Homo sapiens: one gene and its partner. The protein of the gene in region 2 interacts with the protein of the main gene of each other region in a pairwise test. Each region holds a gene or a part of one and is shown on either strand. Other genes may lie near its edges.

What was found.
Region 1: the proteins of SIPA1L1 (region 2) and NRXN1 interact in a two-hybrid assay, tested with the Homo sapiens proteins (one study listed by BioGRID).

Annotation. Positions count from the first base shown.
Region 1 is NC_000002.12:51,029,107-51,041,297, reverse strand, and holds the start of NRXN1 (neurexin-1 isoform alpha4 precursor), read left to right. Parts: upstream 1-9,165; 5' UTR 9,166-9,317; intron 9,318-12,103; 5' UTR 12,104-12,191.
Region 2 is NC_000014.9:71,661,604-71,678,240, forward strand, and holds part of SIPA1L1 (signal-induced proliferation-associated 1-like protein 1), read left to right. Parts: intron 1-9,515; coding exon 9,516-10,089; intron 10,090-10,744; coding exon 10,745-11,019; intron 11,020-16,637.

The DNA of each region.
Region 1 (12,191 bases), on a different chromosome or scaffold from region 2:
AACAATAACTACAAAGGAAAATATTAACAAATTGAATTACATTAACATTTAAGTTTTCTGTTTATCAAAAAAATGAAGAAGGAACAAAGGTTAATTACAGATGGGGGAAATATTTTAATACATATAACTGCACAAGCAATCATACCCGGAAAATGTAAAGAGTCCCTACAATTGATTTTAAAAGACAAGTAATCAAATTATTTAAAAATGGGCAAAAGACTTGAATAGACCCTTTTTAAAAGAGGATATCCTAACGGCCTATAAATACATGAATTAGGTACCTAACATAATTGGTCATCTGGAAATTAAAAAATAAAATGTTAATGAGATAGCAGTGAAACCAACTAGAATATCTAAAATTAAAATGATTGATAAATTTTTTTGGCCAGAAAGAGAGAAATTCTCACACACTGTTTTTCAGTGTATAAATAGTGACAACTTTGGAAATCTCTTTGTCAACAACTACTAAAATTAACCCATGACCCAGCAATTCCATTCCTAGGCATGAACCCAGTGGAATTGTGTACATATTTGCAACAAATAACATGTACAATGTTTATAAGACATTATTTGTAAGAGTCCAATACTGAAAACAATACAAATGTTTATCAACAATTGACTAGATAAATATTGGTAAATTTATAAAACTGAATTCAACATTGACAATGAACAAAATCACTGCTGCATGCAACATGGATGGATTTCACAAACATAAAGTTGAACAAAAGAAGGCGGACACAGAGTAGAACATACTGAATTATACCACTTATCTAGATAGCAAAAACAAGCAAAATTAGTTTTGGTAGTTTGAAATCAAGTTATTAATTAAATTTATGGAGGAGAGAATAGAAAATGACTAGAAGGAATAGGAGTTTAATATTCTAATATTTTATCTTGGTGAAAGTCATAAGGGTATGTTCATCTTTTGAAATTCATCAAGATCAAGACTTACGTTTTCTGTCTTGTATTATGTTATTTTATAATAAATACGTTTATTTAAACATACTGCCAGTATTAAATCACTAGAAATCTAGAATATTCCTTTTTTCTTATCCTAACATCCTATTTGGAAAGCAGGTTCACTTTGCACTGGTTACCAACTTGTCTGAGTTTGATGAGACAGAGCACACTCATAAACAACAAGTTACATGATGGAGATTTATTATTTACAAATCGGAAGCAAGGGACAACAGATGCCTGGGATCCATTGTAAACAGGTCCCCCAAGCCCCAAGAAAACTGCCTAGAATGGATGGAGCCTTGGCTGTGAGTGGCCCACTTGCCCCACAGCTGACAGACCTTAAAAGGCAGTCCGCCCTGGGTTATATATCTAAAGGGCCATGGAACTCACTGGGCAACAATTTGAAGGACGTCCTACTTCCTGGAGAGAGAGGAGCAAAGCCTGGGCTGTCCCAGGCAGTTAATTCATAACTGAAGATGTTATATTTCCTAGGGGGAACAGGAGCCAAGGCCTGGGCTATTTCACGCATTCCTCTCTATTTCAAGATATTGCATTCTCAGCAAATTCTGTCATTATTCTTGAGAACTAGAAGAAAAAGGCAGGGGGAACTCAGTGCATTAAAAGCTTCCTGGAGAATTGTCCCGCACTATCCAAGATTTATTTCTACCTAAAATGTATCGAGATGTATCTGTTTAGGGTGACGTATTCTTGCTGTCTCTATTGTGATTTCTCTTCTTATATTCAATTTCTCAAAAAGTAGACTCTAGAATAATGTCTGTATCTTATATTTATAGTTTTCTACATTTGAAAAGTACCACAATAGAATGGTACAGTGAACAAGAATATGGACTTTAGTTTCAGAAAGATTTGGTCCTCACTCTATCAGGAGCGGTCTACAAGTTTGAAGGCAAGATGGGTAGCATCTCCAAGCCATAGTTGGTTGAAAGACAAAGAGAATGAAAGTGAGAGCAAGCCTGTGTGTGTGTGTGTGTGTGTGTGTGTGTGTGTGTGTGTGTGTGAGAGAGAGAGAGAGAATGTCTAATTTTCAAGGTTGTAATGGATAAAGAAATATATATGTAAAATCATCTGCCAAATGGTCTCTTATAATAGTATTATGCATAACTATATTTTTCCATCCTCTATCATGCATCCTGTACTAGTTTCCCAGGTTTATCATAAACTATCACAAATTGGGTGGTTTAAAATATAACTGGGTGGTTTTTATAACAATAAAACATTTATTCTCTCGGAATTCTGGAGGCTAGAAGGCTAAAATCAAGGTGTCAGCCAGGTTGGTTCTTTCCCTAGGAAAAATCTGTTCCATGCCTCTCTTTGAGTAGTCTGCTGGTTGCTGGCATTACCTGGCATTTCTTGGCTATATAGTTATATCACTGCAATTTGTCTTTGTCTTCATGATTCTCTTTCTTATATCTCCTCTGTGTTTTCAAATGTGTCTCTCCTTTTAAAGATGCCTGTCACTGGATTTAGGGCACACCCTAATCCAGTATGACCTTATCTTAATTTGATTACACCTGCAAAGACCCTATTTCCAAATAGTCACATTCATAGATAAGGTGAAGACTTCAACATATCTTTTAGGGGGACAATTCAACTCCCAACATATATCATGCAGGTACTACTATAGGAGAAGCTAAGAGATTTGTCTCTGTTGCCATACAAAGCAAGTAATAAGGCTGCAGCTAGAAACACATATAACTCAGAATTCAGTGCTTCTTGTAACATACCAAACTACTCAAAACAATTATCTTCATGTTCTAAAGGTCAACTTTTAATAGCAACTGTACTGTTTTATCTATCCTATGTGCTTGGCTGAATTTAGAACATGTAAATCAATCTTTTGAAATGTTTACTAGAGAGAATAACCACCCATGATTATGAGTTTGCATGTGTACGTGTATACAAAGCTGTGAAGGGAACAAACTGGTAGGCTGTGTGCCATTTCCAACCAGCAGAGAAGTCTATTTTGTCCTGCACAGTATTGTGGTAGTAGTGGTGATTATTTTTTAATAAGCCAAGATTTTAAAATCAGAAGATTTTACATAACATTTCAGATTTCCAGCTGCTCTTGTAAAATCGTAGGATCTGGCAACACCAGACTCACATGGTCACAAGCTGTTGCGGCCGCAGAGTGAACGCCATTTTTAGAGAAGTATGAACATTTTAGGTGTCCACACTGTCTGCCAATCCTCATTGTTTTCCCAGTTTGCCTACCTCACTCATGTATGTCAAACACCAGACACTGTTAAGCATTGCAGTCTGCTCTCCTTGTTCTAGAGAAAATTAAAGTGCCTCTACTGTACTATAACTTCATTCAATGGGATGTGTACATCAAGCATATACTTAAGGATGTAGTTTATTCCTATTTCACTGATCTTCTTTCCTCAGCAAGAGAAAAACTCTTATCAAAATAAAACTCTTCCCTATTCTGCTTCACGAGTCTCTTCAAAAACCTAAGATTTTTTTTTTTTTACATAAAATGCGGGTATTATTGCTCTAATTTGTGAAGTTACAATAAAATATCTACAACTTTCTGTATTCTTAAGATATCTATCTCTGTGGGTGTCTGTAGTATTAAATGAAAAAATGTAAGTAGGACAAATGGATGAGAAAGGCAAACAAAAATGAGAAGAAAACTCTGAAAAAAAAATGAGGTTTAAAGCTATATTAAGTAGGAGGAGGGCAGTAGCTGGAAAACTGGTAAGAATTGAATATTTTTAAAAATCCATAAGCCCAACATAAAATCAAATAGGATGTGTTTTAAAAGCAAACCACAAAATGTTTCGAGATGCCATCACAGAAAATTGATTCCACAGATTTCTAGGGGGCAGAAATAGGCTAAAAAGAAGCAAAGATATTATAATAAGACTCTTGAATTTCACTGACATCCATAACTCATCACAAATCCCTTGCTCTTTTCTTAAAAGTCATAGTAAGGAATATTAAATAGCACTGGCTAAATTAAACAGATTAACTAGTTGCAGGCACCCAATAAAAATAAATTGGAAGCCACATTGTGATGAATGAGATAATTCCTTTTCTGGAGCCTAGCAGTTGAGAATGGCAGGCTTGAGTGTAGAGTTAGGTTGTGGGGAAGAAAGTTCTGTTCACAAGAAGAGAAATAAGTCATTAGAGGGGGTAATAATGACAGGCTGAAGTGTGCAACTAAATCACTGATCGAGGAAACATAAACCCTCTGGCAGGGACTTTTCACAGACTTCATCTAGCGACAGCTATTCTTCCTCAGAAAGATTTTTCCTCATTGTGGGGGAAGGAGGGGTGGAAGTAAACACAGAGGAACACACTCAGGTGTAAGTGCTGCCCTAGATTTAAAAACACTGCCCATCAAACACGCTGCAGGGTTTCCACATTGAAGCCTTTCTAGCAGGTGCATCGTTCAAAACTTAACTACTGTTCTCAAGGACCTATCTACGTGCTTTCTCTACTGCTGCTTGATACCTTAATAATTATCATTACATTAATGATTTGCAGCCATTTTAAATCACATTCTACCTTCTGATTACAGAAAATTTACATACTCAAGGAAAAGTAGCCTAATTTTACTATGTTTAAGATTTTTTCAAGTAGTAAGAAAGTATTTAACATACTGAGTTTGCTTATTTCTCCTGAAAGTTACTTAGTAAGCTTAATAGGAAATTATGTGTCTTTTTGTACATGTAAATCCTAGTCTGTTTATTCCATTTTATAGCTGAGTCTCAAACCCTAGACTTGATTACATTTCCTTGCATTTTTAAATTCATCTAGTTGTAAAATAAATTTTATATGGCAGCATGTTCAATATCTATTCTTAAACTTTTGTAACCAGAAAACTCTAATTGGTTCATATAAAGAAAACTAGAGACATTTAACTGCAAACAAAAAATGGATTATATTATTAAAATAAAGTCATGAGCTAAACAATAGAATTCCAATTGTGCAGCACTGATAATGTAATTGGTTAGAGAAATTTGATAGCAATCTGAAATTTAGTTGAATTAGCACGTAATATTTTCCTGATACTGTGATTATTTTAGTAAAAGTGGCTTCATTTTGATCATCTATAGGACAGTAAATAGAAAATCCCCTCAGCGATAAATCTTACTGTTTTTTTTGAGTTGTTTCTCATCTTAAGTGAAAATGCATTTAATGTATATCAACTGGTATTTTTCCTCATTGTTACCATGTGTTTCTTCTTCTACCCCTTATATCAGTAAAGCACCCTTCATAACTGATATCAATATTGGAATTCATAGGTATCTCAAAGCTTCCACTTTACCTTAATGTTAATTGAGAAAGTAGGTGTTTACATTGATTTCCTAATGTTAAAGCACAGGGTCTGATTGCAGCAATAAACACAGAGCATCTCTGCTGCATTCGTTTCTCAGTCAAAAAAAATCTTACTACTTAGTTTCATTTATTTTTAGTGTAGCATTAGTCTCCATGTTAGAATTCTCATTAATATTAATAACCTATGGAAATATACTTGCTTTAGGTGAGCATGCATTTCCATTTTCATTGATGCAAAATGTTTACCAGTTTATGGCATGAGATATTATTTATGTTTCCATATTTGGGTTGCCACAAATTCTCCCAATCAGACATAATCATAAACAAGCACCTTGATTTCGCAGTTACCTCATTTGTTCTGAGTGGTAGCTAGGGGCAGGAGTTGAAATCCTTAACATATTTCTGTAGCCTAAAATTAGTAGATTCCCTAAGGTGATTCAGGAGGAATTAATCCTACTTCCCACCTTCTAGAAAAATACTAGATTGTTCTTACAAATGTTAGATTGCTTCAAATTCAGATCTACAGGAATCACCTCACATCTTGCCCAGAAACAAACAAAAAAGGTAGTAACATTGAAAACACGTCACCTATAATATGTAACAAAGTACATGAATATCATATATTTCATACAGTATTAGTCATTAAGGAATGTTATGGCAAAATTCTGGAGTTGACTGTTTAGTTTCCTAGACTCCTCTTGATGAAAGTCTTAGAAAGGAAAAGGAATGAACAATTACGGGCATCTGCATTCTGCCAAGCACTTTGCTACGTATATCTGATGATCCGTTCAAAGTCAGTGTAGCAAGGGGGTTAAGATTACAGAATTGAGTTTGGATTTTTCCTCACACTGTTGCTTGCTTACTAGACTTTGACTATCTGGACTAATCTCTCTATGCTTCACTTTTTCTCATTGGTAAAATGAGTGAAATCCTAGAACCTACCTCTTAGAGTTGCTGTGAGGTTAGAATAAGTTAATGTAAGTAAAGCACTTGGAGCACTGTTTGGCGAGGAGTAGGCACAAAATTAACATTCAATGTTGACATTATCTCCACCAAGTCATATAAATGGAGATGCCATTATCTTTATTTTACTGATGACAAAACTGCCACTTAGAGAGTTGAAGTAATTTATGGAGAAACAACAGAAAAACTCATACTTTAAAATAAATTAACAACTTTTATCATTAAATTATGTTGTGATATTTGCATTCTAAGCTACAAACTGATACTTTTCTCTATGCATATTTACTGAAAAAAAAAAGATCCTGGGGCTGTCCACTTCCTTGGACTACATACAGTAAGTACCTTAAACCTGATTGCAAAGGGGATTACTCCAATACATCATCTATTCCTTCAGTTTATATAGTTTGTGTGTGTGTGTCAGGGAGGCAGTGGTGAAGAGATGTGGGAACACTGGTCTTTTTAATCTGAAAATTCACACATGCAGCATAAGAATGTCAACATTTTTTTTAAATCAAAACACCACAGAAGACATCTCAAGGAAAACCTTGATTCAGTGGAAACACTGTGTAGCCCAATTAAAGATAAAATAAAAATTCACAAAGACGAAATGAAATAAAGTAGGAAATTGTTCAGATCACATGCACTGGTGGTAAATAATGAGTTTTTATGAATCCAGGTAAAAGGCAGTGCTTTGACTCTTAAGAGTGCCTCTAGCACTACCATAATGTTCACTGATGCATGTTCACACCAGATCTTAAGAGCATCATGGAACCAAGTTAGACTTGATTTTTGAAAGTGGGCTGTCCATTCCACTTACTTTTGCAATAAGCTTTAGCTCTATACTAAACACATCGCGGTGTACCTTCTGTACTATTTGTCCTATAACCTAATGGTAGGAAAAATTGAAAAAGGCCCTGAATTAACTAGACTGTTTTTTTGTTTCAAGTTCACTGAATGAATAATTTAGATAAGTAATTTTCTGAGTCTTAGTTTTACATCATTTAAAATTAAATTTTTGTTTTAAGAATCATGTTAACAGCTATTATTTCATTACATTCCCAAAGCAATCTTATGGAATAAGCTGACAATGACTAATACCTCTATTTTATAGTCAAAGAATTCGAGTTTCAGAGAAATTCCTTCCATTGAGTCAAACAGAACACAGAGTGGGTTGTAGTTGATAAATATAGCCAAAATTCCACAATTTGGAATCCACAATTCCAAATATGTTATGTTTATTTATTCATTTCATCTTCACAACATCAAACACATGAAGAGGGAGCTATTATTATATCCATTTTACAGATGAGGTGACTGAGGCAGCATAAGATTAAGTATCTTGCTGAGGTTACAACTAATAAATGGCAGAGATTGAATTGAAGCTCAGACAATCTATTTCCCAAACATGTAACCACTTGACAAAACTGCCTCTCTAAGGGCGATAAACATATTAAAACCTGTGATACCCGCCTTCAGGTTATTTAGACCCTTTTACAAAAGTAGTGAAAGTATAAATCGGCTTATCATAGGAATGAGTTCTAGTTTTTTGGAAGAATATACATATTGTAATTGTAATATATATTATTTTGATGTTCCCAAATTTATCTAGTTCTTAAATTCTTGCTCTATAGGGCCTGGAGGCCAAAAATAGTCTTGCCTTACAGTATTTGAGGTTCAGACTATTAGGTCTGTGGCGTTGCAATAAAAATGTCTGTATCTGCTCCAAAACTAACCCAGGCTAGGAATATACAGGAATAGGAATTTAAATGTCCATAGGGTGCAAACCATAATTTAAAGCCACAGACCCCGAACTCCTCTACCACCTAATCTGTAAGCTCCCTTAGATTTAACCCCTTTCTCACCAAACCCAGCAATGCCTATTGGGCATGCCCAGTTGCATGGTTAGAGCCTCACACCCAGTTTTACTTTCACCAGGTTTTACCAGCTGCAAAAGGGAGGAGGAGACGGAGGGAAGAGTTAAACAGGTAGAAAACTTGGTTCAAGACAGAGCACAGAAGGCTGGAGAATGACGACAGGCTGCAGTAAAAAGCACCTTGTCAGACACAGTTGATCGTCGTCTGCAAGTTGGCATCTTACCCTGGTGGGTTCCTTTTACATCTTTTTGGCACAGCCTAGGCAAGTCATGAAGATTTGTTGTGATTACCCAAGGCAGAGCCACAGTAAGGGGTGGGGCAAGGGACATCGGATCTAGAAGAATGCCAGTGCCTGTGTGAGTCTTGCTTGCCCCTGCATTCCTCGAAAAGCTGCAGCTTCTTTTCAAGGGTTCCGAGCAGGAGACCAAGGTGCACAAGTAAAGCCAGAGCTCATCATAATTATCGACTCCTTGGCCCCTTCTCTTTGACTGCTGGACCCTTTCCTGGCACCCTCTCAGGTATCCCCGCCCAATCACTACCAAACCCCGGAGAAGTGGAATCTCCATACAGCTTTCCATGGGTCTAGCAGGGGCCTGGGCATGCTCAGTAGGCTACGTGGTTCTCTGGTTCGTGTTCGTTCGTTCTCTCTCTCTCTCTCTCTCTCTCTCTCTCTCTCTCTCTCTCTTTCTTTCTTTCCGATGGGGAAGAGAGGGTGGTGACAAGTTAGAAGCGCTTGCGGAAGGTCCCCGCCCCCAGGATCAGGCTCCCCCTGCAAGGGGACGATGCAAAGGTAAAAGCACCTCGCTCCGCAGCATCCAGACCTGGAGGGGCTGCGACCACGGGCCGAGCCCACCCATTCCCCAGCCAAAGGACGGGCCCGCCGCTCTCCATGGTACTGCGGAGAGCTCAGCTCCGCCCTTCTCTTTCAGAAGGACAGCACCCGGCGTCACGTAACCCAGCCTTCTCAGGCTCCACCACCGCCTTTTCCTTCCCAGCTCTTTCCCTCTCCTCCCCCTCCTCCTCCTTCTCCTCCTCCTCCTCCTCCTGCTCCCCTCCGTTGCCTGTTCTCCCCTCCCGCACTCCTGGAGATAGACGCTCAAGCCTGACGCCTCTGAAAAGGCAGCAGCAGTCGCCTTATCCATAGACCTCAGGAAATTCGCTTTGACCGATGCATGCTTCAGGCTCTGGCTCGAGCTGAGGGGAATAACCGGGCAGGTAAAGAAGCTCAATTTGGGTTGGGGGGAGGGGATGGGGCGAGGCAAGCTGAAGAAGGATATCTTTCCCCATTGTAACTGAGCCAGGATCTGCCACAAATACACAGGGAAAGATGGGTGGTGGGAGGGTGGAGGAGTGTAGATCTTGGTTGTTTTGCATGAAGCCTTTTAAATAGATGGCAAGAAGAGATGGTGGAACTGGGGTAGTAACTTAAAGGCTGAATGCAGTGATGTATTAGCAAAAGAAAGAAAATAAGAGACAGGCTAGATATCAAAGCAATAAAATATCTCTCCATATATTTCCTTCCCTACCTCATCAGCCCCACACTGTGCCCATCGTTAATTTGTGCAGTAGACCCCGAGCTCCAAGAAACTGCACTGGTATTAGAGATGGAGCTTAGAGACTGGGCGGGAAAGCCAGAGAGAATTTTGGCTGTGCATTGGTATTGAGAGACTTTGCAAAAGCCAGGGGTGAAATAATAAGCACTTCTAAAATTTCTCTCAGAGATTTCATGTTCTTTATGAAGATATATATATATATTGAAGGGTGCATGGAAAGGTGTAGGTGTGTATGTGTGTGTGATATCAGAAACATTAAAATATGCAACTGCAGCCGATGAGCGTACTGTATTGATCCTCCTAGTGACTTGGGATGAATTTGATTCTAGAAATGAAAGAAAAGATTAATGATGCTGTTAGTCTGCTTTTGAATTAGAGCGCTTCTTCTTTTGGCTGCAGTAAGGATGTTTTTCAGATCCCTTTATTTCATCCTCTAATTTGTGAACTGGCCAGGTCTTTCTGGCACCTAGAGAGAATCCTCTTTTCTCCATATAAATACAGATACTCGCTCACATACAATGAGCTTCCTCCAAGAACTGGGAAAACCAGTTAACCTCCCTGTGATAAGAATGTATATATATCTATATGTACATATATATTGCTCTACGGTTTTTCTCTCTTCCACCATCCCTTAAAATTGTCAAGGTGTGCATTAGTGGAGGAGGGCAGGAGGGACGGGAGAAAAAAGGTTATGTGATCAATGTAACATTAATTAATACAATAATTGGCTCCAACAGAGTTACACACACAAGAAAAAAAAAAAGGTTTTCTAACACATGAGCTTGAGAAAGGGTTCAAAGCACTACTCTTGATCATGATATTCCAGATTTATTTTGCAAATGACTGAAAATTTAGCAGATTCCTGAGTCCACTTAAAATATGAAAGTATACTGAATAATATGCTATTTCAGATGATTTGACGAGCCTCTTTCCTCGGGTTTGATATAGGAGAAGACAAGATATGACTGGTGATTGCTGATGGTGTGGAATGTATCAGCCATAATAAATAAGCAACTGAGATTTTTATTTCCTTTTGCTAGTGGGCAGTGTGTATGTGCGCACACCCACACTGTGTGTGTGTGTGTGTGTGTGTGTGTGTGTGTGTGTTGAAAGAGAGAGAACCAGTCATCAATTTCATCTGGGAGGAACTTGAAGTGGGATACCCTAGCTTGGTGGCTCTCAGCTGACACCTGTGGGGATTGCTCTGTACTGAAGAGAAATGCTCTCAGCTCCCCCCATGGAGAAGCAGCAGCACAATGCGGTGCCATAAATTACTGCTAGTTTCAGCTTGTAAGGGAAAAAAAGTGTTAATTGGGTAGTGAGCTTCTACATCCAGACAATAAATTTGGGGTGTGTGTGTGCATGTGTGTATGGTGTATATATATTGCAGTGTGTGTGTTTGCAAGAGGTGGGGAATATAAGAAATAGTGAGAAAAATAATGCACTTCCTTGACATGAACAGATTATACATTTGTAATTTTTTTCAAAAGGTAAGAGTAATTTTTTGGTTAAAAAATGACTTAGGAAAAAAATCAGTGATTATGATTTCTGTACCATTTCAAGAACCTGTCAGATTAGAGTTGAATAAAGAGAAGTGATTTAATAGTATAGTGAGTGATTCAAAGGTACGGTTTTAAATTCTAGCATCCTGGAGCCACTGCAGCTGAGATGACATACATGCCAACAGCTCTTCTGACCACACAAATTGTGAGGGCTGACAGCAAGATACAGACTTCAGGAGGAGTTAGATCTACACTTTTAGGCAAAATATTAAATACTTTATGCACCTTTAGAGAAGTTAATATTAGGGCAATTGAGACAATGCCAAAAACATAAATCTGGCTCCAATTAGTGGTTTTCTTTTACAACAGATTATTCATTAATATAAAGGAGAACTATACTTGTGTGAAATTTTGCAAGAGACTATCAAGAAACCATCAATATTCCTTCTAAGAAAAATAAAATGGCAGGAATGCTATACAAGTCTAAGCTGGCAGCTTCCTGCCAACAGTTTAATCTAATTTGCCAATTGTAAAATCTCTTAACTGAGATTTGAATAGGTTGTATTTTTACTGTCCACAGAACAAGCACACAACATAGGTAGAAATCCTTAAAAGCATTTGTTCTCCCCTCACATATTTTAAAAATTAAACTATCTTGCGAAAAGAAAAAGATAACCATAATCAAATTTCTCTTTAAAACTTCGGGTTACCAACTAACAGTTATAATAAACTACAAGGGTGTCATGGCTGACTGTAAAAGTGTCATATTAACTATTAGAAAATGTTAGGACTTACTTGTAGTGAGGATAACAAAAGCTCCATACAAGAAGGTTAACTCTTTGCCTTACTAATAGGACCAGGTCTACACTTGTGTTATGAGCTGAATAATGATTTATATAATACTATATTGACTTTAGACCTTAATTTTGACTTTAATTCTCTGCAGATGTCTGAGTCCTTAAAAAAGACAAGATAAAACCAAAATGCATCACCAACACACAACCAATTGATGTGCTGGCATCTTAGCTTGGCCC
Region 2 (16,637 bases):
ATGGCTGAATTCACATGATGATGTAATCTGGTGGCATTGACATTACCCAAGCATGTTGGTTAGACACCTGCCGTTTCCATTTGCACCTCCTTCTTAGGTGATGTCCTTCATCCATACCATCTGGTCACCAACCAACTAATTACTCATATTGCTAATTATATTTTTCTTTTGGCATGGCAAGAGCAGAGAAGAACGATTATAATAAATAGGGAAGAGAAGTTAATTTTTTGAAAAGCATTGTTATTAAAGAAGCCTAAATCCTTGCCTCTGACTTACTTGATTCACGTTAGCACTCTGACTACAAGCTTAGAAACGCTTCTATACTTTATTTAGCATTATTGAAATTGTTTCAGTGTTACTTGTTGACGTAGTCACATGAGTATCAGAATTCAGGCCTCTATCTGCAGAGACCTTTCTTGTAAGAATACTAGAGTTAGGAGTTGAAGGAGATAGGGACCTGTCACGCTAGCTCGATAGGGGTGTAGTGCCAGAATGTGTAAGGGTAATGTTCTGGCATTTGTAAGATGTTTTTAATGTGCATCAGTTCCTTTCAAAATATGGACATTTGGCGTATCTTTCCATCCCTAAAAAATGTTACCTGCATAGAAAGTGACCTGTGCACATTGACAGTTTGTGAGATCCACAATTGTATATTTCTAGGAGTAAGGCAGATTAATTCTAGGAGTAGAGTAAGCGTAGCTTAGGGAAAAAAAACAAGTAGAGGTTATGTTGGTCTCCTGCTGGCTGTCACCATCCTTGCACATATCCTAATAACTGCATTGGTTGAGCTCTTGTTATAAGCCCCAAACTATTCTAGACATCTTACATGTATATCCCATTTAATCTTTAAAACCTATGAGGTAGGTACTGCTTTTATCTCCATTTTCAGATGATGAAATTTCAGCCAGGTCACTTGCCTCAGGTTAGCTGGCTAGTGTTGAGCAGAATTAGACAGGAATGCAGTCAGTTTGATTCTAGAGCCCAGTCTCTTAACCACGCTGCTATGCCGCCTCTCTTACATGCTGGGAAAGCTGGGTTTTTCACTCCGAGCTCCCAACACAGAGGCTGTTCCAGAACTTTTCAGGTGCTGAGCCTAGGTGAACACCCAAGACCAGGGAGGTCTGTAGTTTCCTAGGGTTGGGGCAGAACCCCCAACAATGAAGACCTAGATCTGAAACCTCTTATCAAGGAAATGGTGTCTGAGAGCTGCTCTGGTTAGTTGTAGAATGAAAGCACAGAACAATTGACTATAATTGGGATGGATAACTATTTGCATTTAGAAAATACTCTGAGCAGTTAAAACATGCTATGTACTAGATTCATGCAAAGGATTTCATACCACTTGACAGGTAGAAAGTTAAGCCCATTTTGAATGGGCACTTCAAAGTTTGGGGAGTGGAAAGCTATGCAGTTTCTTTTAAAGAGAGTTTCTTCTTTTCAAGCCTTTGTCTGAATCAGTACCGTCCAATGGGACTATAATGCAAGCTACATATTAATTTTACATTTTTTAATAGCCAGATTTTTTTAAAAAGTGCCAAGATATAGATGAAATTAATGTTGACACTGTTTTTGACCAATTTATACATTTTATTTACTCAGTATATCTAAATATTATTTCAACATGAATTAACATGTGATTTCAGCATTTAACAATTATTGTGACATCTTACATGGTTTTTTGGACTAAGTCTTTGTAACCTGAAGTACATTTTAGACTTACCGCATATCTCAATTAGAATGCTAAATTTTCATTGGTGATACTTGATGTATATTTAGATTTCATAAAATTTATAATGAAAAGGTAGATTTAATATACCTAGATTCTTCCAAATGGACTTTTAAAAATCTTTAAAATAACAGAATTAAGTATCCATTTTTAAATCATATATTAATTAAAATTTAATATAATTTGATATTCCTTGGTCACACTAGACACATTTCAAGTGCTCAATAGCCACAGCTGGCTGTGGCCACTGTAATGAACCACACAAGTCTAAACAGACTGCTCAGGGAGGTATGTTCTCCTTCTTCAGTGCTTTGTTTTTTTATTTTTATCATCCCTCCCCTGAAAATTAGGATTTTTGCTTTCTCTCTCTTATTTTTAATCTGTTGCCTGGAGAGCCCACCGTTTGAACCCCATCATTTAATGCTAGAAGTCTTTGCGGGAAGTGGGATACTGAACACCCCTGCTCAAGACATGTGGGCAGGTCTGGAATTTCCTAGTTACCAGGCTTGTTTGAAGGCCCAACACACAGCTTTTAAGCTGTGAATTTTGGCCTGTTTATAAATCCAAGAAAACATTAGTTTGTAACATCACTGAAAGAAATCACAAGAGATTATAGAGCAGTGACCTATGCCTATTGCAAACTTTAAAGATCAATAATTTTTTGCCATCCTTCTCAAAAGAGGCAGGCACACCTCCTCAGGTATGTGGTGATGTCAGGAAGTGTTTGAAGACACAGAATAAACAGGACACCTTTCTTCAAGCCTTTAATGTTGGGGGGAGGCAGGGTAAGGACGAGCTTATTTTCTCATGAAAATAAATGTATTATGAGGTAGAATGGAAAATATCAGTTTTCAGATAAAACATGGGTCTTCAAAGAATTTCTACACCTGTGAATTTTTCTCAAGCCCCAGCCACTCCCCGAACTACTAGGGATATGAATTTATAGGCCTGTTTTATTAGGGGTGGTTTGGTGGAAAAACTTAGACATGGGTTGATTTATACTCATTTTATTTAAATCTAATTTAATTTTATCCCTAAGTGATATAGCTAGAGTAACTCAAATGCTTTTTTAAAGTTTTTTTAATTTTTAAATTTTTGTGGGTACATAGTAGGTGTATATATTTTTGGGTTACATGAGATATTTTTATATAGGCATGCAGTGCATAATAATCACACCAGGGTAAATGGGGTATCCATCACCCCAAGCATTTATCCTTTGTGTTACAGACAATCTAGTTATACTCTTTTAGTTATTTTTAAACGTGCAATTAAATTATTTTTAGCTATAGTCACCCTGTTGTGCTAGCAAATAACTAGGTCATATTCATTCTTTCTATTTTTTGTACCCCAAGTGCTTTTTAGCATTTAAAACCTCTTGGTCCCAACTTTCTCCACCATGAACACACATATTTATTTACTTACACCTACCTGGTATCTGAACTGTGGAAAGGGGAGAAGTTTCCTTGAAAGAGTGTCTTGCAGTAATAGTGTGGAGAGGTGTGGGGTCATTACAGGCTGAAGTTATATGGATATTTATGAGAAGATGGGATTTGATGTGTGTGTTAAAGCATAGCTGGATGGAATTCAATGGGAAAAAGAGAAACCATTCTAGGAGTGGTCAGTGGAAAGGACAGAAGCCTAGAAATGGGAAGGAGGATGGAAAGTACAATAAAAAGGCCTACTAATGCAGAAAAGATGACCAGGCAGTAGAGGCCTCCAGAATGCTAGGCCATCAATTCAACACTACATAAGTAGAATTCCAGGAAAAATTATCCAGTGTTACCATGCTAGGTAATTTGTACACAGAAAGATAAATTTGGAGACTGTCATTATCCATTTATTTTTCATTAGTTCTTTATCCAGCCCTTAGCATATATGTGCTAGACACTACTCTGGACCCTGGGATATAACATGAGAACAAAGAGAGAAAAATCCCTATAGTGGATCTAGACATGAGATCTCAAAATAATGTGGTATTATACCTCCCTGGGGACTAGAAAGCTTATATAGGAATAACTGACTAATTCAGACTAATTCCAGAGGCCAGTTAATGTGAGTCATCATGTAGCCAAGAACTCAGAAATCAGTCACTAAGTCTGCATACTAAAGCTTATCCCATAACTGATGAGAGCCCTCCAGTCTCTATTGTTTTATTTGTATCGTTGCAGTGACCTTAATTATCTGATCCCAGTTGATAGAGAAGATTAGAAGCAAAAAAAAGAAGAAGGAGCTGTTAATAGCGAGTATATACTGGAAACAAATACTTGTTTATTGATAGAAGAGATGCTGAAAAACTATTCACATCAAAGATATGAATTCAATAAGCATAGCAATCTGGGGCCATTTGATTTTGGGGCAAACAGCCAAATATAGTAGTTCCTCCTTATCTGTTGGGGATATATTCCAAGACCCCCAGAGGATGCCCGAAACCATGGATAGTGCCTACCCCTATATATACTATGTTTGTTCCTATATGATAACGTTTAATTTCTAAATTAGGCACAGTAATATATTAACAGTAATTAATAAAATATAACAGTTATAACAATATACTTTAATAATAGTTATATGAATGTGGTCTCTCTCTCAAAATACCTCACTGTACTATACCACGGCTAACTGAAACCACAGAAAGTTAAAACCATAGATAAGGGGGAACTATTGTGTGCTTCAGTCACTCCTGAGGGCTTCACTGTGGAAACACAGTGTAAGATAATACCATTTTTCAACAACTACAGAATTAATGGATTTAAGCATTGATCATCAAAGGATGCAAATACTATAAAAAGAGACAAATATGTGCCTCATAATGGAAGAATACAACCTCACCTATGAATTATTTTTGCTACCCCCTAAAAAAAATTAAATCTGAATCTGATCAAGCTTCCAGAAAAGCCAATTTATAGGAAATACAAAAGACAGAGGAACATGTTTGTAGTTGACAAAATTCAGACCCTGAATAACTCTGCAGACACAATGCCCCATTTCTTCAACAAGTAAGTTGCAAGAAATAGTGAGGAAGTGGAGGGGAATCTACAGAATAAAACATTTTTTAAAGCTAAATTAATTGCAATGTGTGGATCCTATTTGGATCCCAATTTAGACAAAAAGACTATAAAGAAAATCCTAGGACATCCTAAACAATTGTAAATTGGAACATTGACACACTATTTGATGAAATAAAAGAGTTGTTATTCATTTTAAAACTAAAATAGTAATAAGTAGTCATAACAAGGACCCTGATTGTTCAAAACAAATATTAAACTGTGGTCAGTAGGTATGTTTAGGAAGGTAGAAATATGTGTTACTCCTCTCAGAGAGGTTTCCATACCCGGTAATTAAAATGTAATAACTGTTGAAAGGAATCTGTATGATATAGTACAAAAAGCACTTGGAATTAGACCAAATTGTTAAACAGTGCAGTGGGAAGTTGCTTGACATCCACTTAAAATCCTATTAAGTAAAATGTCTAGCATAGGCAGGGAGGAAGCGTGATGCATGTCCATTAAATGTCTGTGTTCATCCTCTTTCCTCTCTGTAAAAAAAAAAAAAAAAAAAAAAGAATTTGCAAGCTTCAGCTGAGAAGAAGAAAAATCCAAGTAGGTCAAGTGATAGAAATTTCTTTCAGAAGGTCTATTTCAAGCCTCAATTAATCAGCATCCCTATTGTCCACTGCAGCTGACCTTTCTAAGACAAGAATCTGATTATGTCATTTATTGTGCTTAAAAGCATTTAGAGGAAAGTTCAGACTTGCAAGCATAGCTTACTGCATGGGGGCTTCAGGTTTGGCCTCCTGTCTCTCAGTCTCATCTACCAGTCTGCACCCCATGCCTACCTCACTCCTTTGGAGCTACTCACCACTCCCCAGAACAGCATGCTCTGCCCCTCCGCTCTGCACATGCTGCTCCTCTCACACATTCCCCTTTCCCTCCATCTGATGAATTCCTGCTTTTCTTTTTTCTGAGAAGGCTCCCTGGACCTCCCAGGACTAAAGTGCCTTTCCTAAGTGCTACCAGTAGCACCCTGTACTTCGCAAGTAGGAGACTCAAATCACTGGCTGTGGCTCCCACCAGACTTTGAGTTTCTGGAGGGCTGAGCCCGGGACATCTTCAGCCTTGATCCTCAGCAAAGGCAAAGTGCCTAGCACATAGTAGGTACTCAGTGACTGGTGGATCAATACTATTAGAAATCGAGAGAATGATTGGCACGTGTTTGATCTTTCCTGTCCTTTGCCCAGATCTGCTTTCTTGGAAGCTGCCCTGGCCAGTAATCTGATTCAGGCTCCAAGAAGAGGAAACTTCCTTCTCCCATTTGATGTTTTCTGTATCACCTTCCTTTTAAATTTTGGGCTGGGGATTGTTGATTATTGCTGTTTTTCCATTGTGCTTCCAAAGTTCAAATGTCTTATATTTCTCAATTTTTATCCACTAAACTGTTCAGAAGTCTTTGAAACAGGCCGGGCGTGTTGGCTCATGCCTGTAATCCCAGCAATTTGGAAGGCTGAGGCAGGCGGATCATGAAGTCAGGAGATCGAGACCATCCTGGCTAACACAGTGAAACCCTGTCTCTACTAAAAATACAAAAAATTAGCCAGGCGAGATGGCGGGCCCCTGTAGTTCCAGCTTCTGGGGAGGCTGAGGCAGGAGAATTGCTTGAACCCAGGAGGCAGAGGTTGCAGTGAGCCGAGATCGCGCCACTGCACTCCAGCCTGGGCAACAGAGTGAGACTCCGTCTCAAAAAAAAAAAAAGTCTTTGGAACATTTTCATGTGTCAGCTTGAAGTTGGCTTTGGGTATCAACACTTGTTATTTCATTCAAGCTCTTTGATGCCAACCAATGTTACATGGCCCATATCGAGTAGAAATAGCCTCATCATCTCTTAGGCCATGTGACCCATGTGAATGGTCCCTTTTAGCAGGCACCTCAGGAGTAGGAGGTTTGAAAGCACTTCCTCAGAGGGAGTAAGTGTGGGCTTGTCGTGGAGCACTCTCTTGGCTGTCCAGAAGCTTACATTCCAATCCTGGCTCTCTCTAACAAATCTGGGTAAATCCTTTTACTTCTCTGTATCTGTTCCTGGAGAAGTGAAGAATTTGTACCAGCTGCTCAACCGGAGGTTCATGAAGATGTCAAACCACAGAATACAAACAAGACACCTTCCTGGTCGCTCAGTGTACCCAAAGATTTTGGAGTGAGAAGATATTTTTATATGAAAATGAACACAAATATTTTTCAGTAGAATGTAAAATCGAGGTGAATTTTCAAATGAAACCCAAAGATTTTACTGAAAGAATTTGAGGAACATTGAGTTCTGTTAAGTTCCCTTCCTGTGATAACTTTCCATCACTGTTTTAGCCTCTAGCTCTGTCTGTCTGTCATCTAGATAACCCTGCTGAGTAGAACATTCCAGTCCTCAACAATGCTGGGTAAATAAAGCATGGCTATGATTTTAAAGCATGTATTATTTCCAAGAAGACACAGAATTGCCAACTAGGCTAATATACATACAGCCAAGCAGAGGCCCTTTGGAATCTGCTTTTAAAAATACCAAGAACCGTTTATAATTAATATATCTTAAGTAACTACATGCAGCAAACTGAGATTCTAGAAAGGCTTTTTTTCTAAATATTCTGTTTAGCTTAAACCAGGCCTTATTATCAAGAGTTCAGAATTTGTGGCATCTAAATTAATGAGCTTTTAACCTTGTAGAAACCTTGCCAGTTTGATTTATCCAAAACAAAATCATTTATTTGAAAAGAGCATTCCAGGGTATCATCTTCCTCATCTTCTGTAAGGATTCTATTTCTGACTATGCGAAGCTGATTTCAGTGCCTGTATCATTTACCTCCCTACCACAGTGAATCATTGAAAATTATATGGTAAGGATTCAGTTCTTTTCCTCACAGTTCATTATAGCTGTTTCTAATTATTGGTAGGTTTTCAGTGTATGTTTGTCTAAAGTTCTATCAATTAATAAATGGATCTGCAGAAAGCCAGTTAGTTTAAGGGGCAAGTAGATGGAGGGTGCTTAAAATCACACCCCCTGCTAAACATTTTGCTCTCCTTATTTAAAATAAAATCACAGATATTTTCTGAGAAGGAATAACAATTTGAGTGAAATAGCAGATGAGAAGTTGCCAATTTTAAAGTGAAAGATATTAAATATTTCTGGATTCTTACAGGATTCCACTTAGAAAAATCTAGCAAACCTGGATTTCAGCATCTTTTGCTTGACTTTAAGAGAAAAATAACACGATCAAATTAAAATTATACAGCTGTCAGCGTTCAAGTCAGGCAGTTCACAATAGACAAGAAAAATTGCCTTCCTAATACATATTGGTATAATTAAGCCATATGGAAGTCTCTGAATTCTCTCCTCCAGTTAGAAAATGGAGTGTTGGTTGCCACTGTTCTTTGTCATGAAGTGAACTAGGTAGTCTTTTAAAAATACACTTGTAAAACCAACAGATAGGCCATCCCATGGCATCTTCTGAGCATGTAGCTTTTCCATTCCACCAGAAATATAATTTGCCTCCTGAGGTTGCTGATTTTTATTTTTCTTATTTTCACAAGAAATAACTATTTCTTGAAAAACAAAGCTGAATATCTTAAAGCAAACCCTTCCTAAAGAAAAAAAAGTGAAACAGAGCTCTTCAATTTTATTTGAAAGATGCATACTCTCTGATGATGCCATTTCTATTCCAAGAGTTCAGAAGAAACCGATTTTTTTATTGTTTCCCTAATACTAAGTATAATTGCATAATTTGTTCACTTTTAATTTGGAAAGAGCGATCTTCGATGTGTTAGAATCATTTCCAGTCATGTCAAACTTTACTAAAATCTTGGGAAATGATATAAAACACTCAACCTCTCTATTTCTATATCAACAACTTCCTTTGTTGTTTTAGGAGAAACTTACTTTTTTTCCTTTTGAGGTTAAAAATAATAAGTTATTACAAATGTTCATATGATCCTTTTCTTAGGCCCAATTTTAGGAATATATAGTCAGAAGAAATGACTGGAACAGGCTTTCTTATATCAATCTTGCTTAAAGGAATGGGAGAAGGAAAATATTTTTCTTAGAAATAGATTATCAGAATAAAATACCAAAAGGACCAAGGAATAGCTCAGTTTAAAAATATGATTTTAAAGCGTTGTTGCTATTACATAAAGATTCTCATACTATTACTCAGATTCCAATTTTCATTTTAAAATTATGCTTTTAATCTGGTTGCATAATGCCTCACACTTAGGCCAACAAATACTAGTTAAGTTTTATTGAAATTTAATTCATTTCTTTTATGGCATGCATCTTCTGATATTTTCAATGTAAGCTGTCTGCTTATAGCCATCATATCTAAAATGGAGAACACATTTGTGTTCTCACAGAATGTATGCTTGTTCTGAAAGATGATGTGGTTACAGTAACCTCCCTTGAAAACAGTTAGTAGGTATTTAAAATGTCTTACACAGAATATTACAGTAAACCTATTTTTTTTCATGGAGTTTTGGTCAGTTTCCTGTCTGGTAAAAAAAAAGTTAATAGTGTTAGCTTTTGGGATTTTGGGAGGTTTGTTTTTGGCCTAGAAAAAAAATTATGTTGTGTAAATCCTAAATGCGGTAGAATGAAAAAATATACTCGTATTAAGCAGAAATGTGTGTTGTTTCTCATGGAAAAATAAGCAGCTATTTTGTATCTGAGGTACATCTTTGTCTTTGAGAAAGTATATTTTATTCTGATGTTGTGAGACTGAGAAATACTGACGTGGCTCTCTTTGATCTTTGTCTCTCAGTGTGGCTGTTACCAGGTCCAGAGATGTGCCTTCCTTTGGGCCTCCCATTCCTAAAGGGGTCACTTTCCCTAAGTCAAATGTGTTCAGGGACTTCCTTTTGGCGAAAGTGATTAATGCAGAAAATGCTGCTCATAAATCGGAGAAGTTTCGGGCCATGGCAACTCGGACCCGCCAGGAATACCTGAAAGATCTGGCAGAAAAGAATGTCACCAACACCCCTATCGACCCTTCTGGCAAGTTTCCGTTCATCTCTCTGGCTTCCAAGAAGAAGGAAAAGTCTAAGCCATATCCAGGAGCCGAGCTCAGCAGCATGGGGGCCATTGTATGGGCAGTCCGGGCTGAAGACTACAACAAGGCCATGGAACTAGACTGCCTTTTAGGGATCTCCAATGAGTTCATTGTGCTCATTGAACAGGAAACAAAGAGCGTGGTCTTCAATTGTTCCTGTAGAGATGTGATAGGGTGGACTTCAACTGACACCAGCCTCAAAATCTTCTATGAACGAGGAGAATGTGTTTCAGTGGGTAGTTTTATTAACATTGAGGAGATCAAAGAGATTGTCAAAAGGTTGCAGGTGAGTCTCTCCTTCCTCTTCCTTACATGCAGTTTCTCTTTCATAAAGTTTTCAATACAGACTAGAGCCAAGTTACTGAACCTTGTGCTCTGTTATTAGCTCCTCTGAAAACTCCCTTGATGTGTGAAGCAAACAGAGTTTATCTCATGCTTGTGTTTTCCATGGATGTTTCGGAAAAGTAGAACAAATTGGGGAAGACACATTTACTCTGTGTGTGTGTGTGTGTGTGTGTGTGTGTGTGTGTGTGTGTGCGTTCATGTTCAAAACCCATTTGCATGTGACCTGTTCCCTGGTGCTGCAGTCCAGTCATCTGGTGGTGGTGTTGAAAAGAATTGCTTGAGTATCTGCTGCCTTGAATTTTACAAAGGCTAAATGAGTAGCAGTATATGGTTTCTATTTACTGCCAGCTCCCTGTAGGTCTCTGGTAGAGGTTTCCTTGTAACTTCAGGGAAGCCGTTGAGCTTTTTGGATGCAACAAGTATATTCCTTTTGGCCTAATGAATAGGAGATTAGTGAAGAGGAAATAACCAGACTGCTCTTCAGCTGGCAATAAGGTATTCAGAACTAACCCTGCTTGCAATGATTTTCCAGTTCCATGTCCACCACTTAATACCCTATTGCTTTAAACCACAGTATCTTTTATTTCCTTGTCTAGTTTGTTTCAAAAGGCTGTGAATCGGTGGAGATGACTCTGCGAAGAAATGGGCTAGGACAGCTTGGCTTCCATGTCAACTATGAGGGCATTGTGGCGGATGTGGAGCCCTACGGTTATGCCTGGCAGGCAGGGCTGAGGCAGGGCAGTCGCCTGGTGGAGATCTGCAAGGTGGCGGTAGCCACTCTGAGCCATGAGCAGATGATCGACCTCCTGAGAACATCTGTCACGGTGAAGGTTGTCATCATTCCCCCGCATGATGACTGCACCCCGCGGAGGTAGGTCTGAGGAGACAGCTGTGGGCCTGAGACTCGAGTGCAGGGTTTGTGTACCATGTAGAACATCTCTTAGCAGGTAGTGGAGTAGGGTGTTGTGAAGAACAATAGGTTACATGTGATGCTGAATGTTTCATCCATGGAGTCTGACTCAGGACGAAGCTCCCTTTCAGTGTGTGGTGACAGCAGCTGGAAAGAGTGACTAAATGGGACCATTCCCAGGATTTACATCACTGGATTTATAAAGTTGCCATGACAGATAGAGAAGTCTGGTAATATCTATCTTAAGAATTTTCCACTGGGAGCTGAGAAACATTGAACACATTGAACATTAAAAGACACTCAACATCTCAAATTGTCAGATTGCTTTTCTTCTATGTTCCATGATGCTCTTATTCTCTTCTCTCTCCTAATTGCTGCCCAAAACTCAGCAATTGTTTGGACCTTTGCTGTCTCAGTCTGGCAGCTGCTTTCCTAACTGTATCTGCATGTGCTAGGGTTTGGCTTCAGGTGAGCTGCCCCTGCTCATGGTGCTTTGGCATTTTGGTTCCTAGTCTTTTCCAGAAGGGAAAACCTAAGAGCTCCCTGCCCCACCCAACCCCCCACAGCTCCTGCCAAGCCAGCAGCACTGTTGAAAATTTAATTTCTCTGTCTCTGGGGAGGTTTATTGGTGGAAGAAATTTAATCAACTGTTTATTTTCTCCTTTGGACATGCACATGCTATTTTTGCTAGTTTTTAAGATCTCTCTTTTTAGTTTATGCCATTATTTTCTAAGAATTTCTCTTAAGCTTTGGCAATTGATTCTTAGGCTTTCTAAAGCCAAGACAGTGTTCTGTGTCCTATTTTGCCACTAAGATGACCAGTCCTACACCTGAGCTCTCATGGATTTGTGAATATCAGATGGTAGAAAGTTAATGGTTATGATAGGCTATTTGTGTCTTTTAAAAAGTAAAGAGCAGCAAATATATATGTGTGTGTGTGTGCGTGTGTGTGTTTTATATACTTTGCTCAGGATAGTATTTCCTAATACTGCTTACCTCCTAGATGGCCTAGGGATTATGTATATATGTCAAAATATAGAAAAATTCCTTTGTCTGATAGTTTGAAGAACTTCCTTTTGGATGACTGCATTTCCCTGGAAATCAAAATATGAACTTTTAATTTCACCTGTTTTGGAGAGGAGTAAATATTCAGAAACTGCCCTACCCACATACCCTGCCTTAGTTAACCAGGTCTAATGAACCTTATTAGCCTTTTCTGGTTTCCCCAAGCATATCATCATTAAATGTTAAGTAATGTGCTGAACTGTGATTTAAAAAATAATGTGAGGTGGCTCAGAAAGGCAGTGGGGTTCTTGCTTATGACAGTCTCCAGTCTTGCTGCATTCCTTGTCTTGTCTCTTTCTCTGCTGTCTCTCCTTCAAATTGTCTACTTTATTGCTTCTGAACAGACAATTATAAATGGGAGAAGATAGCCAAGCTTTGTAAATTGTCAACCTTAATTACCTACAGTAAAGAGTTACAGATGTTAGTCTAAGGACCGTCTACTGAAATATGGAGCCCTTGACCTTATGATGCCATCTTGCCCACTCAGAAGTCTTTCCCTTGTATCTAGGCTCCCAGGTTTATATGCGGGAAAGGAGAGGGAAATGGGTTTGTGTGACTGTGGGTGGGATGAGACAACAGTACAGACATCGAAATTGGAAATAGCTGTTACTAGAAAGATGGATAAGAGGCCTGATCCTGGATAGATGGAGCCATGATAGGAGGAATACTAGACTAGATATATTGTGGTGTGTCAGTGAAAATAACTAATATACTGAGTTTTTTACCTTAATATGCCAGGCCCTGAAAAAAGCACTTTTTTATGGGTTAGTGCATTTAATTCTCATAACAACCCTCTCTTGTGATAGTGTTAGTAGCATTCCTGTTTTTTTTTTGTTTTTTTTTGTTTTTTTTTTTTTAGACGGAGTCTCGCTCTGTCGCCCAGGCTGGAGTGCAGTGGCGGGGTCTCGGCTCACTGCAAGCTCCGCCTCCCGGGTTCACGCCATTCTCCTGCCTCAGCCTCCCAAGTAGCTGGGACTACAGGCGCCCGCCACTACGCCCGGCTAATTTTTTGTATTTTTAGTAGAGACGGGGTTTCACCGTTTTAGCCGGGATGGTCTCGATCTCCTGACCTCGTGATCCGCCCGCCTCGGCCTCCCAAAGTGCTGGGATTACAGGCGTGAGCCACCGCGCCCGGCCGCATTCCTGTTTTAAAAGAAACCGGGACTCAAAGGTTAGTAACTTGCTAAGCTCATCTGACAAATTTAGGTCTAACATCAGAGTCCAGGCTCTGAACTGCCACGTTGTGTGCTTAGAGCACAGATCCTTTCCTTATACACTAGAATCAGCAGTGATGTGCTGGTGAGTTGGCTTTCTGCTGGGGTGAAGAAAACTTTATTTGTAGTATTTGCTGATTTCTATGGTGCAGATACTCCCACTGTGGCTGGTTCCAAGCTACCGATGTGATGTCACTGCAGGCAGCATTGGGGTAGATGGGATGATTACCAGCTCCAGCACACCAGGGAGTGAATGAGCTGTCACACCGCTGTGACGCTCTCAGGCCTTCCCGGAGGAGCCAGTGGAGCTGCCAGTGACATGTCACTTGGGTGCCAGGAGGGGAGGCTGGGGGAAGGATTAGTGCACTGCACAGCCCCACCAGCCTGGAGGGAGACACAGGGCCCCTTTCACTACAGTTTCCATCTGAAAAGCCATACAGTTTCCATCTGAAAAGCCATACAGTTTCCATCTGAAAAGCCATACAGTTTCCATCTGAAAAGTCAGACCTGGGCAGGGCAGGTGGGAAATGCCTTGATGCCTTTGGAGGGCTGAAAGCCTGCTCCTTTCTCCTTTCTTTAGAGATAACTTCAAAGGGAACAGCTGAAGCATTAACACCTTGTTACAATTTTCAACAAAATAGAATAATGCTCTTGTGTCATTTTTTTCTTCTCCTCCGCACTTCACACTCCCACTGCTGTTTTTGTAGCAACTAATTACTCTGTTCTTTGAATAGTCATTCTCTTCTTTGTCAGCTGGGACTTCACCACCAGTCACTGCAGCTGCAGCGAGAGGCAGGACAGGCCTCCTTGAGGCAAGCTGCTCCTCTACCCCTCAGCCTGGTGGTTCTTAGGGTCGCCAGGACCCAGAGAGGGACACAAGCAAGGGGGTGCGGGAGGTGATGACTGTATGTAATACAAACACCCCCAGGATCTAATACAAACACAAATGGATTTGTGTGTTCACATGGGAGAGTCATTCATTTTGAAAATGCAGCTTTTAAAATATATATAATAGTTCAACAACAAAAAAGTAGTACTTAAATAACATGTAAAAGCCTGTAATCCCAACAGTTTGGGAGGCCGAGGCTGGTGAATCATTTGAGGTCAGGAGTTTGAGACCAGCCTGAGCAACATGGTGAGGCTGGTCTCAAACTCCTGACCTCAAATGATTCACCAGCCTTCTCTACTAAAAATACAAAAAAAATTAGGGGGGCGTGCTGGCACATGCCTGTAGTCTCAGCTACTTGGGGGCTGAGGTAGGAGAATCACTTGACCCAGGAGGCAGAGGTTGCAATGAGCTGAGATCGTGCCATTGCACTCCAGCCTGGGCGACGGAGGTAGACTCCATCTCAAAAAAATAAGAATAAATAAATAAAATAACATGTAAAACAAGGCTCTCTTCCCTGTTCTTGGAAAATATGCAGACCCCTTATGAATCGTTTCCAAACTACAATTTTTTTAAGAGAAGAAAGGACAGGGACAGTATAGCAAACTTTCTGAGCCCCTACTAGGTGCCAGGCATTTTCCTTTTTTTTTTTTTTTTAAGTATATATACTTTAAGTTCTAGGATACATGTGTGCAACGTGCAGGTTTGTTACATATGTATACATGTGCCATGTTGGTGTGCTGCACCCATTAACTCATCATTTACATTAGGTATATCTCCTAATGCTATCCCTCCCCCCTCCCCCCACCCCATGACAGGCCCCAGTGTGTGCTGTTCCCCTTCCTGTGTCCAAGTGTTCTCATTATTCAGTTCCCACCTATGAGTAAGAACATGTGGTGTTTGGTTTTTTTGTCCTTGTGATAGTTTGCTGAGAATGATGGTTTCCAGCATCTTCTATGTCCCTACAAAGGACATTAATTCATCCTTTTTTACGGCTGCATAGTATTCCATGGTGTACATGTGCCACATTTTCTTAATCCAGTCTATCATTGGTGGACATTTGGGTTGGTTCCAAGTCTTGCTATTGTGAATAGTGCCGCAATAAACATATGTGTGCATGTGTCTTTATAGCAGCATGATTTATAATCCTTTGGGTGTATACCCAGTAATGGGATGTCTGGGAAATGGTATTTCTAGTTCTAGATCCTTGAGGAACCACCACACTGACTTCCACAATGGTTGAACTAGTTTACACTCCCACCAACAGTGTAAAAGTGTTCCTATTTCTCCACATCCTCTCCAGCAGCTGTTGTTTCCTCATTTTTTAATGATCGCCATTCTAACTGGTGTGAGATGGTATTTCATTGTGGTTTTGATTTGCATTTCTCTGATGGCCAGTGATGATGAGCATTTTTTCATGTGTCTGTTGGCTGCATAAATGTCTTCTTTTGCGAAGTGTCTGTTCATATCCTTTGCCAAATTTTGATGGGGTTGTTTGATTTTTTCTTGTAAATTTGTTTAAGTTCTTTGTAGATTCTGGATGTTAGCCCTTTGTCAGATGGGTAGATTGTAAAAATGTTCTCCCATTCTGTAGGTTGCCTGTTCACTCTGATAGTAGTTTATTTTGGTGTGCAGAAGCTCTTTAGTTTAATTAGATCCCATTTGTCTATTTTGGCTTTTGTTGCCATTACTTTTGGTGTTTTAGTCATGAAGTCCTTGCCCTTGCGTATGTCCTGAATGGTATTGCCTAGGTTTTCTTCTAGGGTTTTTATGGTTTTGGGTCTAACATTTAGGTCTTTAATCCATCTTGAATTAATTTTTGTATAAGGTGTAAGGAAGGGATCCAGTTTCAGCTTCCTACATATGGCTAGCCAGTTTTCCCAGCATCATTTATTAAATAGGGAATCCTGTGCCCATTTCTAGTTTTTGTCAAGTTTGTCAAAGATCAGATGGTTGTAGATGTGTGGTATTATTTCTGAGGGCTCTGTTCTGTTCTGTTGGTCTATACCTCTATTTTGGTACCAGTACCATGCTGTTTTGGTTACTGTAGCCTTGTAGTATAGTTTGAAGTCAAATAGCGTGATGCCTCCAGCTTTGTTCTTTTTGCATAGGATTGTCTTGGCAATGTGGGCTCTTTTTTTGGTTCCATATGAACTTGTATTTTGTATCCTGAGACTTTGCTGAAGTTGCTTATCAGCTTAAGGAGATTTGGGGCTGAGACGATGGGGTTTTCTAAATATACAATCATGTCATCTGCAAACAGGGACAATTTGACTTCCTCTTTTCCTAATTGAATACCCTTTATTTCTTTCTCCTGCCTGATTGCCCCGGCCAGAACTTCCAACGCTATGTTGAATAAGAGTGGTGAGAGAGGGCATCCCTGTCTTGTGCCAGTTTTCAAAGGGAATGCTTCC